Regions from separate parts of the Homo sapiens genome. Here region 1 is linked to region 2. The links come from fine-mapping of genetic effects on gene expression. Tissue or cell type: whole blood. Region 2 holds a variant in brackets; the other region holds the start of a gene. All regions are shown on one strand. Distances are from middle to middle.

Region 1 (2,500 bases), 51 kb before region 2:
CTGCCAAGATGAAGGGGGAAGGGATTGGAAAAGTGGGGAGATGCTCGCCTATTATTTTGGGGGAGGTGGGGAGAGGAAGGAGAACTATGGAGGAGGAATTAACCCTCTCCTCTCCACAGTGGAGCTGAACCGACTTCGCCCCCCTACCGAGAATGGAGAAGAACCCCCTCCCGTGGGGGAGGAGCAGACCTCCCCACTTCAAGGAAGGAGTTTTAGGGGTTAAAGCAGCCCTCGAGGGGAAGGGAAAAGGGACAAATCTCTCAGGGGAGTTCCCAACAGAGGGAGGGAGAGTTGAGTGTCCGCTGGCCCCCGCCCACCCAGGTGAAGGGAGATAAGGAGGTGTCCGGAGCAGCCGAGCCCAGCCTTCCCCGAGATGGTCGGGAAGACTGGTGGGAGGAGGGGAGGGAGTAAGGGTGGGGAGGAGGAGAAAAGCGCAAAGCTGGCCGGAACCTGCGCTCCCCTTCCCCCGCCGCCAAGGGGGAGACGGGGTGGGGGGCCGCCCTCCGCCGCGGAGAAGCAGTCCCCGGGGCTGCCGACCGGCACAATGACCCCTCCCCGCCTCCAGCCCACACCTAGCCCGCAACGCCTCCACCTCAGCTCCCCGCCCGGCCGAGTGGCCCTAGGGGGCCTCCGCCCCGCCTCCCCACTGCCCAAGACCCCGGGGGCTGGGCGGAGAAGACCAGCCCGGCGGAGTTGCGTCCCAGGGGGAAGACAGAGCCGCGGAGGCCCGAGCCGCGAAGAACCGGGGCGCCTGTGAAGAGCGGAGAGTAGCAGAGCGCCAGGGCCGCTTCCCGCCGGGCGTTCGGGCCCCTCGCTTACCTTCTCCGTTGCCGACGTCCGGCGGCGGCGCCTGCAGCACCCGCTCCAGCTCAGGGAACGGCAACTCAGGCAGGTCTAGCAGCGGCCCGTAGCGCTCCAAGAAGGAGCAGACTACGGCGAAGTTGGGGCACGAACCCGGGCAGCCCGGAGGAGCCATCACCGCCGCCGCTGCCGCCGCCGTCGCCATTTTGAACTGGAGGATGGAGGAGGAGGCGATGGGGGGGCGGGGGAAGTTGTGGTGCCGAGGGATGGCAAGGCAACCTTACAGACGACAGGAGGCGCTCTCAAGTGGGCTCCTCTGCGGATCCCAGCGTCTCAGGGACGGCTCCGCGATCCCACAATACATCGGCGGCCCGGAGCAGTCGAGAACCGAGTCAGACGGGAGACAGAGCGGCCCTCGGCGCCTTTCACTTTCCGCCCTCTTTCCGCCCCCTTCTCTCCTCCCCTTCGGGCTTGCCACTGCCTCGTGTGACAGGGGGAATGAAAACAAGGGAAGCGGGGCGGGGAGGCGGGCTGGAAGCGGGAGGGGCGGGACTTCTCGAGAACAATGGCCAATGGACGCAGAGGGGGCGGGGCCTCGGGCGCTGTTCAACTGCAGGGCGTATTCCCGGAGGGCAGTTGGGGAGCGCAGATCCCGAAGCAGCGCTGGGAGCGTAAGTGCGGGCAGAGCACTGCGCCGTTTGGGAACGCAACTTTGAGGAGACAGTGCGGTGGGTGAGTTTGCGGGGGAATCCTGAAACTGGGCCACGAGATGGTGGAGAGGTTGAGGAGAATTAATAAACAGAAAAAGGGAATAGGGCGGGGGAAAGCACAGTTGTGGGAGAAGGTTGGGAAGGGGAAAGGTAGAGGTGTGCCCTTAATTAGGGGCTGGGCTGGGACCTCGGTAAGATGTCTCTGTGGAAGTTTGCCGACGGGGTATTGCTCTCTGCTGGGGTACAGGAATCGCAGCTTTGCTGGAAAAGCAGGATCTGAGGGAACGGAACTCTGGGGGAATCGTCGGAGTGAGGAGTTGGGGCCCTGCTGGGAGAAGAGGATCTGAGGAGACCAGGCTCTGCTAGGGGGCCATGGTGTGAGGGGAAGGGGCTCTGTTCAGGGACCAGAATCGGAGTGTGGGCTGGGACTCCATTGAGAGGCGGAACATGACAGGAGACGGTGGAGCAGCGAAAAGTTTGTTAGAAGACAGGGTTCCACTTCGGGGCGGGGCGGGGGCAGTGAACATTCCCACAAAGAACGCCAGAGAGAAACTACCAATAATGTAAAATAGAATGTGCAGCCTGAGAAGCAGCAGTACACGTTATGCTTAGAAGCCTGAGCTTTGGATTCAGCCAGGCCTGAGTCCTAGCGGGGCTACTTCATGACACTGTGGAGGTTTCTTTATTTCTTTGAACTCCTTAGAGTGGGGTGATAATAGTACCTACATCATACGGTATTACTAGATAAATCACAGTAAAGTGATTAGCACAGTGCCGTAGCACATAGTGAGTACTTTAAAAATATTAGTTATCAAAAAAGGAGTTCCTATAATTTAGACTGAATTCCGCTATATTTATTTAGTCTATAATTTATTACTTTGAGAATTTTCTGAGTGCATTTAAAACTCAATGTAGTACCTAATTCCTAAAAAGAATTTGGCCGGGCGCGGTGGCTCATGCCTGTAATCCCAACACTTTGGGAAACCGAG
Region 2 (2,850 bases):
TATTATGGATAGTCATCCATATAGAGGCCTACCTCATTCTTTCCTTTATAGATGTCTTACAGTCCTGTTCCTTACTGATGAAGGTGCCCCTTACATCTAGGGCTTTATATATATAGGGCACCTTCATCAGTAGGGCTCAAGCAATCCTCCCATTTTGGCCTCCTGAAGTGCTGGGATTAAAGGCTTGAGCCACCATGCCCAGCCTATTTATATTTTAAAATTTTAAACTAGTTTGTTTTCCCCATTACAATAATTCCTATCTGATAGGGTACTTTTATAAATCTCAAATATATAGAAAATATAGGGCATATTAAAAAATATTTCACTTGAGTTCTTTCTGAGGCAGAGTCTAATTAAAATCTATTTTTAAAAAATATTCAGGACAAGCCAGAGTTGAGAAAATATCTAATAATAGCTGTCACTATTAAGAACATCTTTTATATAAATTCATTTACAGATATTTATTAAGCATTTTCTATGGGTAAGGCACTATTCTAGAAACTGGTGACGGTGCGATAAACAAGACAAACAAGGTTCATGCCCCTCATGGATAATAAAAAACTAGACAACTTCAGATAATAATAAACGCAGTGAGGAAAATGGTGACTTATGCTGGGCTAGTAGGGGGTGGGCAAGAAAGGCCTTTGTGAGAAGACATTTGAGCTGCAGTGTACATACATGAGTCAATTTCATCCTCACACCAACCCTGTGATGTAAGTACTATTATACCTATTTTACAAGGGAAGAAATTGGGGCTGGGAGACTTTAAAGAGCTAGCCTAACATTTCTTAGCTAGCATGCGGCAAAGAAGAAATTTAGACTCAGTTTAGACTAACTCAAACATTTAACATTTATGGAGTTTGCACACCAAGGTAGATGTTTCACATACCCTTAGCTCAGTTAGTTGTCATACCAACCCTAGGTGTTAATGTCCCTAATTTACAGACATGAAAACAAAGACTCAGAGAATTTAATTTACTTACCCAAGGTTACAGTGCTAGTAAGGATGTAAATCCAAGGCTAACTGCAAATCCCATGTTCTTTCATTTCCATTTCACTTGAGCTTTATGCATGGGTATTATGATACCTCTGACAAAGAGGCCTTTTTGACTCATTGGGGCTCACTGCCAAATTTTGGACTGGTGATACACTGAGTGATCGTGAAGTGACGATTGTCACTGTCTAATTCTGTAGAGTACACCTGCCTCATGGCAGTAAAGGAACCCCTGGGGGGCCTTTCCCCCTACTTACTCATCTCTTTTCCACCTTCCCAGGTGCCTTCATCAACTGTGGAGTACCTCAAGAAACATGGCATTGATGTGCGGGTCCTCCAGACAGAGCAGGCAGTGAAGGAGTATAATGCCTTGGTTGCCCAAGGGGTCAGGGTGGGAGGTGTCTTCCATTCCACCTGCTGATGGAGCCTTAAGAGGAG[A/G]ATAAATCACTAAGTGCCTATGCCTGTGACTGTCACTCACCATTCTCCAAACCAGCCTCCCCTAAACATTTTTGGACACCTACTCATGCCAGGTCCTGTGCTAGGCTCTTGGGATGCAGGGATGACCAAGACAAGGTCCCTGTCCTTGAGGGTGCTAAAAGAAAAAAAGATGAGACAGAAGTTTAATAATATAGTGAATGAACTGAGGGAACATCTGAGTAACAGGAACAGTAGGAGTATGCCCTGGGAGTTGGGTTCTAGACAGGCTGTTCTACTAACCAACCCTGAGACTGGAGCCAGATTGTTCTCTCTGGGCTTCAAATTTCAACTATAGGCCAGGCGCCATGGCTCACGCCTGTAATCCCAACACTTTGGGAGGCCGAGGTGGGCAGATCACTTGAGGTCAGGAGTTCAACCCCAGCCTAGCCAACATGGTGAAACCCCATCTCTATTAAAACTACAAAAATTAGCTGGGCATGGTGGCACGAGCCTGTAATCCCAGCTACTTGGGAGGCTAAGGCAGCAGGAGGATCACTTGAACCCAAGAGGTAGAGGTTGCGGTGAGCCGAAATGGTGCCACTGCACTCCAGCCTGGGTGACAGTGAGAGACTCCGTTTCAAAAAAGAAAAAATTCAAGTATAAAATGTTGGGGCTGGCTAGATGCCCTTTAAAGGTTCCTACTGGCTCAGATAGTCTTTGTTCTATTAAATACCGAGGTGGCCTTTGTGAAGCCTTAGAATAGACTGAGAGAACTACAAGCTATCAGCATCACCTTATTTTTAATTTTTCTTTCTTTTTAAAGAACTATGGGCTTTGGTGTCAAATAGCCTTGACTTTGAACTGCAGCTCACTGCCACTCACTGGTTGGGTATTTGTCTAATTTCTTAGTTTCACTGTTCTCATCTGTCAGATCAGGATAACATTAGCAGTACCTGGAGTCATTGTAGGTATTAAATGAGGCAATTCATAGAAAGTATTAACTCACTGCATGGCATTTAGTAAGGACTCAATACATTAAACCACTGTTGTCCTTATCTTTCTATTAATGGGGATACTGTGTAAAGCCAACTAGTTTCATTTTATGGTTCTTAATATAGCAGCTTATTATTTCAAAGAGCCATAGAATGTTGGAGCCCAAAGGAACTATCTCACTCATTTATTCAGTAATTCTCTTTCATATCCATTTACGGACAGCCTATTACTAATTTTCTTATGACCAGTTATTGTTGGGCCCTGGGGGAATAAGGATGAATGTTACAATTCCTGCCTTTGGGAATTATGTTGTATGAGAGAAAGACAAATAAGTAAACAATAATGATACAATGTTAATATTATAATAGTTACTAGGTCCAGTGGTGGCACAAAGAAAAGACTAATTTATCCCACTAGGATGGAAGGAAAATTAAGGAAGACATCAC

What was found. PIP is the estimated chance that this variant, and not a neighbour inherited with it, causes the effect.
Region 1: it holds the start of AAMDC, and the variant in region 2 is fine-mapped to the expression of AAMDC in whole blood (TOPMed, PIP above 0.99).

What each region holds. Positions count from the first base shown.
Region 1 is chr11:77,819,709-77,822,208 of GRCh38, forward strand. AAMDC (adipogenesis associated Mth938 domain containing) reads left to right here and starts at 1,436. Exons shown (of 4, transcript NM_024684.4): 1 at 1,436-1,533. It overlaps RSF1 (remodeling and spacing factor 1), which reads right to left and starts at 1,014. Exons shown (of 16, transcript NM_016578.4): 1 at 820-1,014. The coding sequence starts at 1,006. RefSeq lists enhancers at 1-368, 369-1,341, 894-1,063, 1,074-1,213 and silencers at 404-493, 634-723, 1,314-1,473.
Region 2 is chr11:77,870,901-77,873,750 of GRCh38, forward strand. It overlaps AAMDC (adipogenesis associated Mth938 domain containing), which reads left to right. Exons shown (of 4, transcript NM_024684.4): 4 at 1,275-1,452. The coding sequence ends at 1,415. It also overlaps a transcript of RSF1 not described here. Among named protein-coding and RNA genes, the nearest start is that of AAMDC, 51 kb to the left of the region's middle. The variant A/G (reference allele first, on the strand shown) is at 1,433.